2 separate regions of the Homo sapiens genome follow, and region 2 is linked to region 1. The links come from fine-mapping of genetic effects on gene expression. Tissue or cell type: whole blood. Region 1 holds a variant in brackets; the other region holds the start of a gene. All regions are shown on one strand. Distances are from middle to middle.

Region 1 (8,105 bases):
TGAGAAAGCTGTGTCTGAGGCAGGTGGATTCTCCTTTTCCTCCTCCTTTTTCTCAACAGCCCTTCTCCCATTTTACAAAAGAAAGACAACCCCTTTCTCCATCACTAATCTGACTTTGATGTATTGCCGCAGGGGATATAAACCTCCCCGTGCCAAACAAAGGGAGAAGCCAAAATAAGGGTGTTGTTGTGGAAAGATGAGTGAACCTGAACGCTGCATAACAAGACCTTTTGCAACACAGGTGGTTTCCAATTCTTTGTCTTCAAAAAAACTTCTGAAGGATCTAATGGAATTGTCAACCAATAAATCATTAAAATTAATTTTTGACAATAGATTCAGGATGGGATGGGATTTCAGTTACATAACTCAGAAGAAATACAAAGGTTTGTATGGCAACACTGTGAGAAACGTCCTTCTACTTATTTATGTAAACAAAGCTTCTTAGCCTTAATATTTTTAAAACATGTAAAAAGTCAAAATAACATTGATACAGAGCCCTGTCTCATTCTAACCATAAACAATATTTATCCACAAATGGCATGAACTAATTAAAAAAGACTTCATCCATGTCTAAGAACTACATTTCCAAAAAAGTTTACATTGTGCATTTAAATTATTTTTCAAATCTTGTTAAATATTTAAGTTATTTTGATTAATTGTGTACTAAAGATAACTCTATCCAGAAAACTTTTTTATATTCCACCCCGTAGAAAACTTTTTTTTTTTTTTGTGAGATGGAGTTTCACTTTTGTTGCCCAGGCTGGAGTGCAATGGCATGATCTCAGCTCACTGCAACCTCCGCCTCCCAGGTTCAAGTGATTCTCCTGCCTCAGCCTCCCTAGTAGCTGGGATTATAGGCATGTGCCACCACGCCCGGCTAATTTTGTATTTTTAGTAGAGATGGTGTTTCTCCATGTTGGTCAGGCTGGTCTCGAACTCCTGACCTCAGGTGATCCGCCCACCTCGGCCTCCCAAAGTGCTGAGATTACAGGCGTGAGCCACCGCGCCTGGCCTAGAAAACTTTTAACACGTAGAACTTTATGGTAAAAGAATTTTAAAAATGTAATTTATGTACATATTTGCATTGCAGAGATGTATATAGAGTGATGAAAAACAGACTTACACGTGTAAAATATATTACATTAGTACAAAATTCTGTGAAAGAAGTGAAGGAGATATGACTTAAAGAAGAAAAAAGGAGCAATGTAAAATTTCCAACTGTTAATGAAGTTAATCATGTATAATATTTAAATGGCTAATGGTGGGTATGAAACAACTACTCTATTTAAATTTAATTGGATAGAATAAAAAAGTGATGTAATCATTTTAGAATGTCAGTATATACTATATGCCCCAAATAACTTCGTTTTGTAACTATTTAAACATTGGATGAAAAAGTTTAGATACCAGCTTGTAACGTGAATGGTAAGGTAAGTAAAATGTCTCACTCACTATTGTGTACCTAGTGCACCAAGCACAGGGCCTTTCTTATATTAGACAACCACATAAATTATTTCTAAACTGAATGGCGTGGGGGCACACAGGTTTTCAAAATTATTTTAGGGAGCATGTGAACAAAAATGTTTGAACACACCTGAGTTTATAACTTACCCTGGGCCACACCACCAACCAAGGCCAAGCTTAGACTTGAACCCATGTTTGCAAGATTCCAAGACTCCAAGACTCATGGTGCTTAGACTATACCTGAGGGAGATAAAGGATGCTATGAATGTTGGTCTTAATTATTAACTCCATTCTGCTTAGAAATAATTTATTTGGTTGTCTAATATGAGCAAGGCCCTGTGCTTGGTGCCACTAGGTATTAGGTTGGTGCAAAAGTAATTGCGGTTTTAATACGCAATAGTGAGTAAGCATTTTACTTACCCTCAAGAAGCTGAAAACTTTACATGAGAGATAAGCTGCCTTCATAAAATCTTTAATATAAGATTAAGTGTAATAAGGGCAAGAGACATTTATGATACGTACTACAGAAAAAGAGAGAGAAGAGAGGCATGGTGGTGCATGCCTCTGGTCCCAGCTATTCAGGAGGCTGAGGTGGGAGGATCACTTGAGCCTGGGAGGCTGAAGTTGCAGCGAGCCGAGATCGCGCCACTGAACTCCAACTGGGTGACAGAGTGAGACCCCGTCTCAAAAAAAAAAAAAAAAAAAAAAAAAGCAAAGAAAAGAAAAAGAGAGAGAGAGAGACAGAAGGGTTTGAGCAGGTTCCAACATCAGATAGACAGATCTTTGTAAAACAGGTAAAATTTGGACTGTGGTAGAAATGGGTGAAAGAAGGTAGAGAGAATTCATTCACCCATCCCTCCATTCACCCAAGAACCATTAATCAGAGACATAGCAACCAAATGTAATAAATGGGCCTTTAAAATTCGTGGCTGGCACAATGAGATGTCTCCTCACCCCAGTTAGAATGGCTATTATCAAAAGGACAAAAATAACAAATTCTGGGAAGGATGTAGGGAAAACTGAACTATTGTAGATGGTTGGTGGGAATGTAAATTAGTACAACTATTATGGAAAACGGTATAGAAGTTCCTCAAAAAGCTAAAAATAGAACTAGCCTATAATCCAGAAATCCCACTACTGGGTATATATCCAAAGGAAACAAAATCAATATGTCAAAGAGAAATGTGCACTCCCAAGTTTTATTGCACTATTCACAACAGCCACAATATGGAGTCAACCCGTGTCCATCAACAGATGAATGGATAAGGAAAATGTGATACACACACACACACACGCACACACACACACTGGAGTACTATTCAGCCATAAAACAAAAGAATGAAACCCTGTCATTCACAGCAACATTATGAGCTTGGAGGACATTATGTTAAGTGAAATAAGCCAAGAACAGAAAGACAAATACTGCATATTCTGACTCATATGTGGAAGTTAAAAACGTTAATCTCATGTAAGTACAGAGTAGAATAGTGGTTACTAGAGCCTGGGAAGGGTAAGGGGAAAGGTAGTAGTGATAAGATGGTTAATGCAAACAATGTTACAGCTAGATGGAAGGAATAAGTTCTGGTGTTGTATGGCACTGTAGGGTGACTATCGTTAACAATTATTGTATATTTTCAAAAATCTAGAAGAGCCAAATTGAATGTTCCCAACACAAAGAAATGATCAGGCCAGGCACAGTAGCTCACGCCTGTAATCCCAGCACTTTGGGAGGCCAAGGCGGGCGGATCACCTGAGGTCAGGAGTTCGAGATCAACCTGGCCAACATGGAGAAACCCCAAGTCTACTGAAAATACAAAATAATTAGCCAGGCATGGTGGTGTGTGCCTGTAATCCCAGTTACTCGGGAGGCTGAGGCAAGAGAATCACTTGAACCCAGGGGCAGAGGTTGCAGTGAGCTGAGATTGCGCCACTGCACTCCAGCCTGGGGACTCCGTCTCAAAAAAACAAAACAAAACAAAACAAAAAAAAGATCAGCATTTGAAGTGATGGGTATGCTAATTATCCTGATTTGATCATTACACATTGTATACATGTATTGAAATATCACACTGTACCCCATAAAGATGCACAATGATTATGTGTCAATTAAAAATAATAGTAAAAAAAAAGATTATTTCTTGACATGGAAAGATGCTTATCATTAAACAGATTACCAGGTCGCCAAAATAGAAATTGTTTGTATCAGGGGTCAACAAACATTTCCTGTGAAGAACCAGTAAATATCTTCAGCTTCGTGGGCCATATGATCTCTGTCACAACTACTCTGTTCTACTGTTGTACTGAGGAAGTAACCACAGATAATATGTAAACAAATGAATGTACTTGTGTTCCAATAACACTTTATTTCTTGACACTGAAATGTGAATTTCATATGAATTTTACATGTCACAAAAAATACCCTGCTTGAAATAAATGAACTGTAAAAACATTTGGGAGACATCTGGAGAATTCAGAATCCTGACTGGGTATTTTTTGGTATTAAGAAATTTTCGCTAACTGTTCCTAGGTGTGATGATGATATTGTTCTTATGTTCTAAAAAGGAGAAAAGCATCTTTATCTTTTAGCCATATGCACTTAAGTATTTCTGGATGGAATGATATGATGTTTTGCATTTGATTTAAAATAATCCGGTGTATGTGTGTTGGAGGGAATTGGTAGGAGAACTACAATTAAAACAAAATAAATCATGTGTTGATAATTTCTGAAGTTGGGTGTTGGGTGCATGGAAGTTCATTACATTATTTTCTCTATTATGTATATGTTTATATTTCACCACAATGAGTTTTCAACATGGCGAAACCCCATCTCTACTAAAAATACAAAAAATTAGCCAGGCGTGGTGGTGGGCTCCTGTAATCCCAGCTACTCGGAAGGCTGAGGCAGGAGAATCGCTTAAACCTGGTGGGTGGAGCTTGCAGTGAGCAGAGATCAGGCCACTTCACTCCAGCCTGGGCAAAAGAGTGAAACTCCATAACAACAACAACAACAATAACAACAAAACAACAACACTATTATAATTTAATGCTTACCATGTTCCAAGAAACTGGAAGTATAAACAAGGAAAATACATTGCTTGCCCTCAAGGAGCTTATGATCTGCTGGGGAAAACAGACACATGAAATGACCAGGTATGTCACGATTACCTATCGGCATGAACCAAATGACCAAATGCCACGGGAGAACTGGATTCTGCCTGAGTTGGTCAGGAACGGCTTCAAAGAGACGGTGAGGTTTCACTATTTCAGAAGTAGAATTTCTAGGACTTGATGACCTACGGGATGTGAAAAAGATGGAGTCAAAAGTAATAGCTTTTACTTTGCCCACGTGGGTGGGTGGTGTGCCATTAATGGAAACAGGAAATACGGGGGGGGGCGGGGAGGGGGCGGGAAGAAATAGATCAGGGT[G/C]GGGGCAGGCAGGGGAGAGTTCAGCCTTGGACCTACAGGAAGTTGTTGAAACTGCTCTAGGCAGAAGGTTACTTAGTTACCGCAGTAACTAAGGTTTCAAGAGGGGAATGCACAGGATGTTTTTGGAGATCCTTCTAGATCCCGGACTAAGAGCCTACAGGCTGGGGAGAGGCAGGAGGTAAGGCTGGCTGGAGAAGTAGATGTGTTCTCTGAGAGCTGTTTTGGGCTCCACCATTGACAGGACACGTGATGATCATGAAATGGAGCCACTGTTTCCCTGTGGATTCCATTGACAAAGTCAGATGAAGGTCTTAGCACCACTTTGGGGGAAAAATAACTAACCTGAAAGAAGCAGCCACTTTGGATGACTGTAATAAAAGTGATGAACAGTCTTTTTTCATTGTTTTGGAAGTGGAGTATACAGGTTTGGATTGTGGGCTCTGGAAATATGCTGCTTGGTTTTAAATCCTGGTTCCAAGGTTGCTTAAGCCTCGGTTTCCTCATCTGTAAAGTATCTCATATAAGAGTAAATAAAATGATGTATGCAAACTGTCCATTACATAATACATTTTCAATAACTTAGAATTATTAGTTCTAATGGTACTTTTTGAAGAGAATGTAAAGGACTTGATTACTTTGTGTGCTGATAAATGCTCCATATTTCCTTCCAAGGAAATTCTTGGAAATTCTTGCTTAAATTCTATTGAAATTGAAGGCCGTTTTCCTCGTGCTCTGTTCCTTGGAAAGGCAAGAAGGAAGAATGAATAAAGGAAGAGGGAGAAAGGAAGGAGTCTTGAGAAGAATGAATCACAACTAACACTGATTGAATGCCAAAGAATAGCCAGAAGTTTCCCTGAAAGAGGGTGCTCTGTCCAGAGCCTTCCATCATGGGTGCCTCTTGGCTGTTTCTTTTGGGCTGGGCTGTTTCTTTGGGCTGGTATGGGGTGGGGAGTTGTCTGTGGCCAAGCTAATTGTTCAATGCCTTTCCATGATGGAGTGGGGGCAGATTGGCTTCCTCTTCTCCTAGGCAGTGTAGCGGGACTTCTCTTGCCATCTAGAAGGACCAAACTTCAGTGCTTCTGAGGGCTTAGAAGGGGAAAAGAGAAAGCCCAGGCCCCTGGTGCTAGGAGCAGAGAAGGGTACTTTGTAAGCGCTTATGCTGCTGGTTCTCTGGTAAGGGAGACCACTAGCCAGTTTGTGCGACATGGGGCAAATAGGAATCATGAGGATCTATTTGCTAGATCTGTGTATACCACACCATCCCTACACCCGCCCCTGTCATCATCATCTACCTCCATGGTCTTCTGTACAGTGAAGAATGACTTTCGGCAGATGGAGGGCCAATTCTCCCCATGAATCCAGCCCTTATTCCATCTCACCTAGGCAGGGGACTTGACTCCTTTAGTAAACCCTCCTGTCATGCCTCACCAACCCCTCTCTACTGATTATCCCTAAACTGTTGACCAACAGGCTCTCATCTCTCAAATCACAAAGAGAGAAGAGAATCTTTGCTTGTCCCTACTCGCTCCTCCAGTTCTGCTCCATTTTTCTTCCCATTTACATTGGAAAGTCTCAAAACAGTTGTCTACCCTATGCTGTCTCTACTTCAACTCCAATTCCCTCTGCAACCCTGTTCCATCAAATCCTTCCACTTTCCTCCACTAGCACCACCCTAATCTAAACCACCATCAGCTTTGATAGGAACTATTGAGAAAGCCTCCTAACTAATCTCCCTATTTAAATTTTTAATCTCTTCTGAACCATTCTCCATATAGTAGTCAAGGTGGTCTTTTAAAAATGTAAACCAGATCTGGAATACTACTCAGCAATAAAAAAGAGCAAGCTATGGAAACACCCAACAACTTGGATGAATCTCAAGGGACTCAAAACCGAGTGAGAAAAGCCAATCTCAAAATGAATATTGTATGATTCATTTACAAAACATTCTCAAAATATCAAACTTACAGAAATGGAGGACGGATCAGTGGTTGCCAATGGTGAAAGACTTGGGGAACTGAGGAGATAGTTATTGCTGTTTTATAATTACAATACAACAGGTAAGATCCTTGCAATGATGAAACTGTTTTATAATTGACCATGGTAGTGGAAAGAGGCCACACGTGATAAAATTGTATAGAACACACACATACCAGACGTGCACGCGCGTACACACACACACAGTAGAAGTAAAACTGAAGAAATCAAAATAAGATTGGTAGATTGTATTAATGTCAATATTCTAGTTATCTTATAGTGTAGTCTTGCATTGGGGGAAATTGGGCAAGGGGGACCCCAGATCTCTCTGTATTATTTCTTACAAATGCATGTGAATCTACAATCATCCCAAAAGACAAAAGTTTAGTTAAAAGAAATATAAGTCAGACCGTGTCACGCCTTGGGGTTAAGCCACTCATTCAATGCCCTCCCATTGATTTTGGAATGAAGTGGCCTGCCCATGGACTGCACCTGCCCATGGACTAGTATGCAATCCACGATCTGGTCCCTGCCAACCTGTCCAGCCTTACTTTCTGGTACTCTCCCCAGCTTTCCTGGCGCCAATCATGATCACCACCTTTTAGTTCCAAAGCATCAAGATTTGGTCCCTCCTTCTGACTTGTTTTCTGGAAAGCTTTTTCCTGGCTCTTTCATATCTTTCAGGGTTCAGCTTAAATGTCACCTCCTCCTTTCCTAATCACACTATTTGTACTTTTCCTGCACAGGCTTTATCCAAATTTGATTATTTTCTCACTTCTTTATTGTCTGTCTCCCCCACTAGATTACAAGCTCCCAGGGCAGGGTGCGTACTGTCTGCAGACAACGCTGTTATCACCAGAGCCCGGCACTGAGCTTGGCACATGGCGAGGGCTCAGTAAACTGAATGCTGAGTGAATGAGACGCCACGCGCCGCTTTGCCATCGGTGCTTTCTGAGTGACGTTAAAACGCTCTGGATGGTGGCACTGGGATTATGGATGGGGCTTATTTAGCTCCCTCCGGCTTGCTACTAAGGGGAGGGGTCGTCGGTGGGCCTTTCGGCGCCGCTGCAAGCCACCGGGTTCCGAAGTCGGAGGCCGAAACGGCGTGGGCCCCGAAGCGGGGCCGCTTTTCAGGGAGTGCGCAGGTTAGCGAGGACCCCGGTGAGGCGAGACGCCACCCTCACTTGGCTGTCTTTGTTGCTCCCACCTCCCCAGCCCCAGCCGCCTGCAGTGATTCGTGA
Region 2 (8,109 bases), 53 kb after region 1:
CTGATCATGACATTACCAAAAATCAAAAGACAGGGGCCATGGCTCATGCTTCGTAATCTCTCTGTGAATATTATAAGGAAAATTCTAAGCCCTGGTCAACTGTGAAATGAACAGGTCTTCAGTGGAGTTAATTAGCATTTTCCAGGTGCTTTGCTGTTTACAGTGTCCTTTATTTCATGTATCTTCTCATTTGTTACAGGTCTTCTTTCATACCTTTTCCTTTTCTCTGAGATTCAGAGACCCTTTGGGGAGGCTGAATTTCAGGTTTGTTTTCATTAGGACCTTACATGACCAAATCCCCCCTCTTGGGGTTCCAGGGGTGCTCCTTCATTTTACTCTCTGATGGGTATGCCATGAATTGTGACATTTAAGCAGTGACTTTGCAAAATTGGACGTGTCAGTAGGAAAAAGTACTCTTCCCACCTTAAAGATTGACAGGAACATGAGATGGCTGAAGCTGTTCTGAGCTTTTTTCTGGCAAGAGTACATAGGACAAGAAATACTCTGGAGAGCTCAACATTGAATCACATCATATCATAGTGCATGACTAGTTGCCTTAATCTTGCAGTTGGACTCACTCAGGAGAAATTGTTGGCAGAGGGATTAAGTAGCCTGACAAAATTATATTGAGAAAAAAACTTGCAGTCTATTAATTTATTAGTAGTAGATATGAGGGAAAGAAGAGTCATGTAAAAAAAAAAAAAAACAACTGGACATGAAACCACGGAGAAATCCACAAAGACTCCATTACAGTTTGTTATCAGCCTCTTGCCCCTGGCCATGACTAATGGCCAGTAATTGTCTGAATAAGTTTTTAACCATTTGGAAATTTCTTCAGGAAAAGAAAAATCTAGTAAAGGGAGAAGGGTGACCACAAGTCAAGCTGTGAATGAGGAAGTCCTGAAATGTGGGCTAAGTGGGTCACTGAATTTGCCGTGTTTGATTCTTCGGTTGCACCACTTTGAACTTTTGAAGTTTGATCCTCCCAGTGGTGTTTCTGAGGTAGAGAGGCTAGGATTAGATTGCAGTGTGAGAAATCCCACAAACGTGATTCTACTGTAATCTTACTGTTCTCTCTCGCTCCTTGATAACTGGGATCCCATTAAAGGGGGTTCATTATTGACATCTCAGAAGAAACTCATTGTGAAGTCTAAAATAAAGTGCCATTCTTCCCTACACCAGCTCTGCCTCCCATATTCCCCATTATTTTCCCAGTCACCCAGAGTCACAACCTCAGAGAGATCCTTGGCTCCTTCCCCTTCTTTCAGTTCTTGTAGCCCTGTCACAGTGTCCCTTATATCTAGTTTTTCCTTTCCATGCCCATTGCCCCTGCCTCTCATTCTTTCAGTCTTTCCTTGCATCTCAGTGGACAATTGCATTACCCTGTGCTGTCTTCCCTGCCTCCTCTCTTCTCTGAGATCTGCTCTTCTTATCACTGCTTGCATGACTCCATCTCATTCTCCCCTTGCACCAGTTGCAGAAAGATCCTCCGTGTGTGGCTTTCCCTCCTCTCTAGCTTTCGGTCCTACTACTTCCTTATCTTGTGCTTCTGTCACACCCCAACCCCCCCCAGCTGCATCCTGCTTCTTGAACACGTCCTGTGTTTTTCTCATACCTTAGGTGACATGGTACCATTTTCTTGGAACACTCCCTCCCCCTTGTCTGCATGCCAAAGTCTTAATCATTCTTCAGGGACCAGGTCAAATGCCGTGACATCCATCAAGTCTTTTCTCATCTCCAAACCAGATGTGATCTCTCCCTGTGATAAATGTCAGTAACACTTTATACCTTTCTTGTAATACTTGTAAGGCTCTGCCTTGCATAGTAGTCATTTGCATATTTATCTTGTTACACTTGAAAGTAAGGACTGTATTTTATTCTTTGTGACCAGTAAAATACCTTGCACCACATAGTAGGGCATCTGTCCAATAAATGCTTGTCATATACAATAAAGCAATGGCTGGGGCGGCATTATCTACAGGTTAACCCAATAATAGGTCATAATGTATCTGCAGATAGTAGGACCATAAGGATGTGTAGATAAACCCTGAAGTAAATGATTCGCAGAGGGTCACATGGAAGGGAAACAGGGAGTTTGATACCTAGCACTCACTGAAAAAAGCGTCCGGATACTGCTAGAGTGTGAGACTAGAAGGCCTGAAATGTAACCATCATACACCAAAGAGAGTTGCTCCCAAACACCAGCCAACTCCACCAATAGTATATAAAGGTGCGTTGTAAACAGTACAGTGATTCTTAAAGATATTATTAAACATCATACTGTTAATATATAACAAGATTGACTAATATGCCAATGAAACCCGTGACTCCAGGTACCTGTGAAATAGCCAGCAAGGGTTCTGAGCCACTGATCCAAGACAGGACAAAGTTACCAACTATTCTTCCTAAGAAATTGTTTCTCATCATGCAAGGGGCTGTTTCTGTCTTGGTTTTGTGGAAGGTCTAATTCTGTGGCTTGAGGACATCTGCAGTAGGGCCAGATGTCAGAGCAGGTAGTGGTCATGCTTCATGAAGTTTTTAGGAGGGCACAGTTACCTGGTTGATGCAAATGGAAGTAACTGGAATAAATGCTATTGTTGCAGGCCCAAGCTCCCAGTCCATCCTGGCTGGTCATAGTTGACTAATTCATGGTGGTCAAAAAGTGATTCTCTTGTCTTTGAATTTTCTCTTGTATTTTAGGCAAAACAGATTTGTTTTTTGATACTTTCATAAAGCTGTCTATCCATATTCTGTTGTCACTTTTCAAAATGATCAGAAACCTAAAGAACTACCATACTTGCCTAAAAGAAGACACTTCCTGATGCATAGCTTGAAACAGGAATTGACTTCCTAAAGGAAAGTATTTGGCACACCAAGCCTATTGTTCACAGCGCTGCAAGAGAGGCATTTCAACATACATGGGCTCTTCCTAAAAATATAACTTGCTAAAATAAAAAATTCAGGGTTCATTAAGGTTAATCATCTAATAAAGTAAGAGAATTTCCTCTAGGTGAAAAGTTTCAGTTTATTTTAGGGGTGTGGTGTTGTTACAACTGGCTAATCTCCGCACCATAATTTAATCAGGCTGGATGAGAAAGAGACTAGAAAGGCGTGGAGCCAGAGCACAGTGTAGCTTCTCTTCTTTTCCCAGGCTTATTTTTTTCCTCTAACATGTAATAAATTTACTCGTAACAACCTGGCTTTTATTGTGTCATTTTCTAGCTAACTGGGAGTTACTGATGTCAGTTGTCTTTTAGAATAACTTTTCCTTAAACATTTGAAGATCGTAAGAATTGGGGAACTCATTCATTCATTTATTCATGGAGCATTTACTGCTCACCTACTGTGTGCTATAGGAACATGAAGACAAGCAAAGCACTGCCCTGGCCCTCAACCTGGTAGGGGAGATGTGTGAATAGGGCCAAAACCACTTAAACAAGACAGTGGCTATAAAGGTGTCTGTACCAGCGAGAAGGTCAGCTGCCTTCCTTGAAGTTGAGTGGCCAAAACCACTTTCAGGATTGCAGGTGGGACTATGTTTTGGAGGCTTGATGGATTTTTCAGTTATTTAGTTCATTCTTTCAAGGAATAGTTATTGAGAGCCTCCTGGGAGCTGGGCAGTGTTCTAGGCTCTGGGGCCACTGCAGTGAGCTCCAGTACTAAATCCCTGCCTTCATGGAGCAAAGCAGGAGATCAGACAGCAAGGAGAGAAATCAGTGCAATACCAGCAGACTTGAAGTAGGGAAAGGAACAACCATGACTCTGGGCACAGGGGACAGTGAGGAGGCCAGTGAGGTGGGAGTGAGGGAAAGGGGGCTAAGGGTAAGGCCAGAGAAGGAATGTGGAAGAAGGTCCTGGAGGGACTTGGGGGCTTTCTTTTCCTAGAACATGCTCCTAATAGCCAGCCCCCAGACATCTGATGGCCTGTTGAGCTATTACAACATTTTAGGTTGATGTCTTCATTTTCATTCATGTTTTTCCTTTTATTGTCCCTGATGCTGAAAAACAAGAGGTTGAGTTTGTGAGACAAAATGTCTTCATTGTGTGTGTGATGGGGATAGGCATAGTCTCCCCATCTTGTTCTGTGCTGTCTGCCGTTAAGGAGGTGGGGAGATTACGATCACTCTCCTTTCCTGTACAGTAATCTGCTGATCTCTGGAACATACTAAGGAGGACATAGAGTGACAACATCTATAATCCCCTTAATCTCTATATTCATACTGTCTAATCTCCTTGAGTTACACTGGTAACATAAGTCTATCTCTTAGAGTTACTTTTATCATTAACAGCACAAAAATGTATTATTTACAGGGCCAAATGCAAGCTCTTGAGGCATATAAAGTGGATTAATAAGGTTGGCTCAGCGTTAAGCTATGCCAGAGCCGAGTCCAAATTTTATTCCGGTACAGGGATGACTTTCTATGTGGCCTCTCTGGCTCTGGAGCTAATTTGGATGCTGAGTAGCCCCGCAGGTATTTATATGTAGCGTTTGGTATTTTTACTGGGTCCTATTCTTCTCCCTTGGATCACCTAAAATGGTTAAGAATTTTCTAGTGGGATTAAGGTTGTGATCTCTGGGGAGGGGTGGGACATCTGCTCTCGGTTATTTTTGTGTTAGCCGCTTCCCCTTAAATGTATGTTCACAAATGAGCCACAGCCTTATCAGCTGGGGTTGAGGGAAGACTGGTCTAGGTGCTGCTCCTGAACTTGGTCTCTGAGCCATGGCTTCCCATAGACACTCAGGTAAAACTTCATGCTCTTTATCTTATATTGAGCACAGTTTTGTTAGGGCAGTGAATCCGTCATTGGGCTAAAAGATGGTTTTTGATGAAATGATTTTAGTCTTGTCTGAATAGTAAATAAATTATAGCTTGTCTCTGTTTTGCCTTTGCCTTTCATGCTATTTCAAAGACAAAATATTGTTCAAGTACAATGAACAGTTTGAGTGATTTATTTTAAAAAGAAGTATATAAACATGTTACCACTATATTTTTACCTTTTTCAGGACATCTCATGAAACTATAAGAGATTGTGGGAGGAAAGGTTTTTCTGGTTAGGAATTTTTGGCTTTCTTTTTTATAAGATACAATTCTTCATCTTGACAGTGCTTTACATCCAAGGTGTTTGGAGAAGGTAAATCGAATGTGGAGCTGAAAGGAGGAACATTTGTAACTAAGAAAGTCCATAATGACCTAGCACATCTTCCCTTTTGCTGACAATGTTTTAAATCTTCCCGAAGTAACAGCTATGTTCCTTTTGATATGCTAAGTATGTTATTAATTGTTTTTAGCAGAAAAAGGGGCACATTTTGGACTCCTTGGGACATGAGCATTTTCTTCTGGTTTTGTAACCTTACAATTAAGGAAGCCCTTTGGCCATCGACAAGAAATCTATGAACTAGGGGCTGAGGGGCCAAAAGCCCAGTTATTTGAAGCCAGGAGGGTGGCTGTGGCCCTGTGGCCCTCTGCCTAAGTAACGGTTCCCTTTCTTGGGGCTGGTAAAGTCAGACGGTTAGATATAAAGAAGGCACTTCATCCTGTCTCCCAGCTTTCAGATTAAGGGATGTCATTATCTATGTTTTTTTTTTTTTTTGAAAAATCATTTTTTAAAACTCATTGCCTGTCAATATTTAAACAATGGAAATACTTTAGGAAATTTCTCTTTTTGGGGTTTTAAATATGCTGCAATGGAATGCCCTACCTTAATGAATTAATATGTAATGTCTTCCCTGTTCCCAAGTGTTCAAAAGTTGTCTGGTTTTTTTTTTTTTCCAACCCTCAGGAGCTGTTTCACAAACATGGTACCAAATGCTTGAGATTGTGGTTATCAGCCAAGATACACATTCTCTGGGTGTAGGCAAACTAGTCAGCTGTGCTAGTTGTCCTGATGAACCTTAAATGCATGTTACCTGGTAGAATAACTCTCATTTTGTTTACTAATTAAGTGACAGAATAGTGACAGAAAGTTTAAAAGTTTAAATAGTGACAGAAAGTTTATAGCATACCCAACCTTGGGTTTTAAATTGCACCAAATTCTTATGTCGTTCTTGTGTATGTAAGTCTGGAGGCTCTAATAACTGTGGCTAAATGGGACCAATTATTTATACCTTTTAGATGATTTTTGAATTCAGGAAATTGCATTTTGTATTGCATTAGGTTAATAGATTCATGAAAGCAGAGAAGAATCAGTCCATGAGACAGAGAAGTCCTCATAGAAAATCAGTGTTGCCCTGAAACGGGCTCAGTATGGGCAAAATAGAAGCTAGGATAATTGGATCCAAATCCATTTTTAGTGACTATCCATATACTGAGAGGACATTTCAAGGACAAAAACAATGTATACTCTTGACATTGAAGACTTTCTGTCTGCAAAATTATGTAGATTCAATTTCTTTAGCCTTTGGCCTTTCAAGTCGAAAACCAGGTTTGGGGTGTGGAGGGGGATCAGGTCACTTGCCATATTACACAGCCATCGATTCCCTTCACCAGCTGCTGCTCAGTGGGCCGCACAAGCCCGCCAGTCTTTTCTCAGGGCAGGGATGGAAAATGAGAGGGTAGGATGAGAGGAAAGTAATCCAACTGGATTGGCTTCTTAAAATACAGAAGATTTGAGTGAGAGTGAAACTGAACATTTTGTGCTTTTGATGACCACCAAATGACTACCTACTACTTCACCACAGCTGGAGAAACTAAAAACACATGCTCTTTTGCTGCCGGGTCAGAAATGCTTTTTTTCCCATATGAAAGAGGGGCTGTGTTGCACGTAATCTGTGCAACATTATGAAAAATCTTCATATACAGACAAAATGGTACTAGAATTGAATCTGGACTGCAGGAAGTTCAGTGGCACATAATTTTTCTTTTAATAATCTATATCGAACCCTCCTGACACCCGATATAATCTAAAATGGCATTAGTTATACATCAGTGACCCAAAAAAGATTTGTTTTTTTTCTAAATGCAGCATACCAGTGAAGTTGCTAATTACATTGAATCATTCTGTACACGTTCTATTTTGAAGGGAAAAAACACTTTCTGATTTTTGTATGAAATTGTATGAAAGACTACTTTTCAGCCGTGACTCATGAGCTCCGTCTCATTGCAGCTACTTAGGTATTTATTCCCAAATGTCTGACGACACCTCCAGGTGCATTAGCATGTCTATTACACAAGTGTCCTATTCATTGGCTAAGGCTTTGCTCCATCTGTTGAATGTTCTGAGGAAAGCATTATACCCTTTCTTTAGAAGCCAGTGTTTATATGTGGAGTCACTAATGTACTGGTAGGTTGGATTTAGTGAAGAACAGATCTGAAATAACCTGATTTTTTTCCATTTGGGTTGTTGTTCATTGTTTACACTGTACATTACACCCTTCATGGAAAACACATAGAAAAATGCTACCTACTCATGATATTCACATTCTCCTTAAATATTCATAGTTTGAGCAACTCAGGCATGAGGGAGAAGATGAACAATAGGAAGAAATACATGAGAAAATACATGTAAAAACACAAGCAAGATTTATTAAATACAAATCGACTGTAATGAGAGGTTTATAGTAAAAAAGAAAAAAGAAAAAAACAAATGTTGTAATGTTATATTACTTGTATGTGTACATGATTAAATTGAAAGCCAAAACTTTTAATTAAGATACTGAGGTTTATTTAGGCACCTCTCAGCATGTTGGATGTAGTTCAAGAATTTTCTGAAAAAGGAAGCTTGTTTATTAAGTGAAAATGATGTGTCTTTTGAAGCAGGCATAGAAAGTCAGGCTACCCTTTTGGAATAAATGTCTAAAATTTTATCACCCAGCCACATTTCTAACTGTATTCTAAGCTTGTAAAACTTTAATTTAGTTAATTTTTAATTAAATTATTTAATAATGATGCTTTCTGTCTTAGAAAATCAGGGGACATTTATGTGGACCTAAGGTGTAGGTTAGACTTCAGCACCTTACACGTCATATAAGATGATTTTTAAAATCAGGAAATAGTATGTCATATTGCATTAGGTTCATAAGTCCATGAAAGCAGAGGAGAATAGGCCCAAGAAAGAAGTCCTTACAGAAAGGAAATCAGTGTGGTCCTGAAATAGGGTTGGTATGGACAA

Evidence for each region. PIP is the estimated chance that this variant, and not a neighbour inherited with it, causes the effect.
Region 2: it holds the start of FHL1, and the variant in region 1 is fine-mapped to the expression of FHL1 in whole blood (TOPMed, PIP above 0.99). The same link has a PIP of 0.9 or more in blood mononuclear cells.

The regions. Positions count from the first base shown.
Region 1 is chrX:136,139,004-136,147,108 of GRCh38, forward strand. It overlaps a transcript of FHL1 not described here. Among named protein-coding and RNA genes, the nearest start is that of FHL1, 54 kb to the right of the region's middle. RefSeq lists an enhancer at 4,389-5,588. The variant G/C (reference allele first, on the strand shown) is at 4,891.
Region 2 is chrX:136,192,392-136,200,500 of GRCh38, forward strand. It overlaps FHL1 (four and a half LIM domains 1), which reads left to right and starts at 4,656. Exons shown (of 6, transcript NM_001159699.2): 1 at 4,656-4,743. The coding sequence starts at 4,722.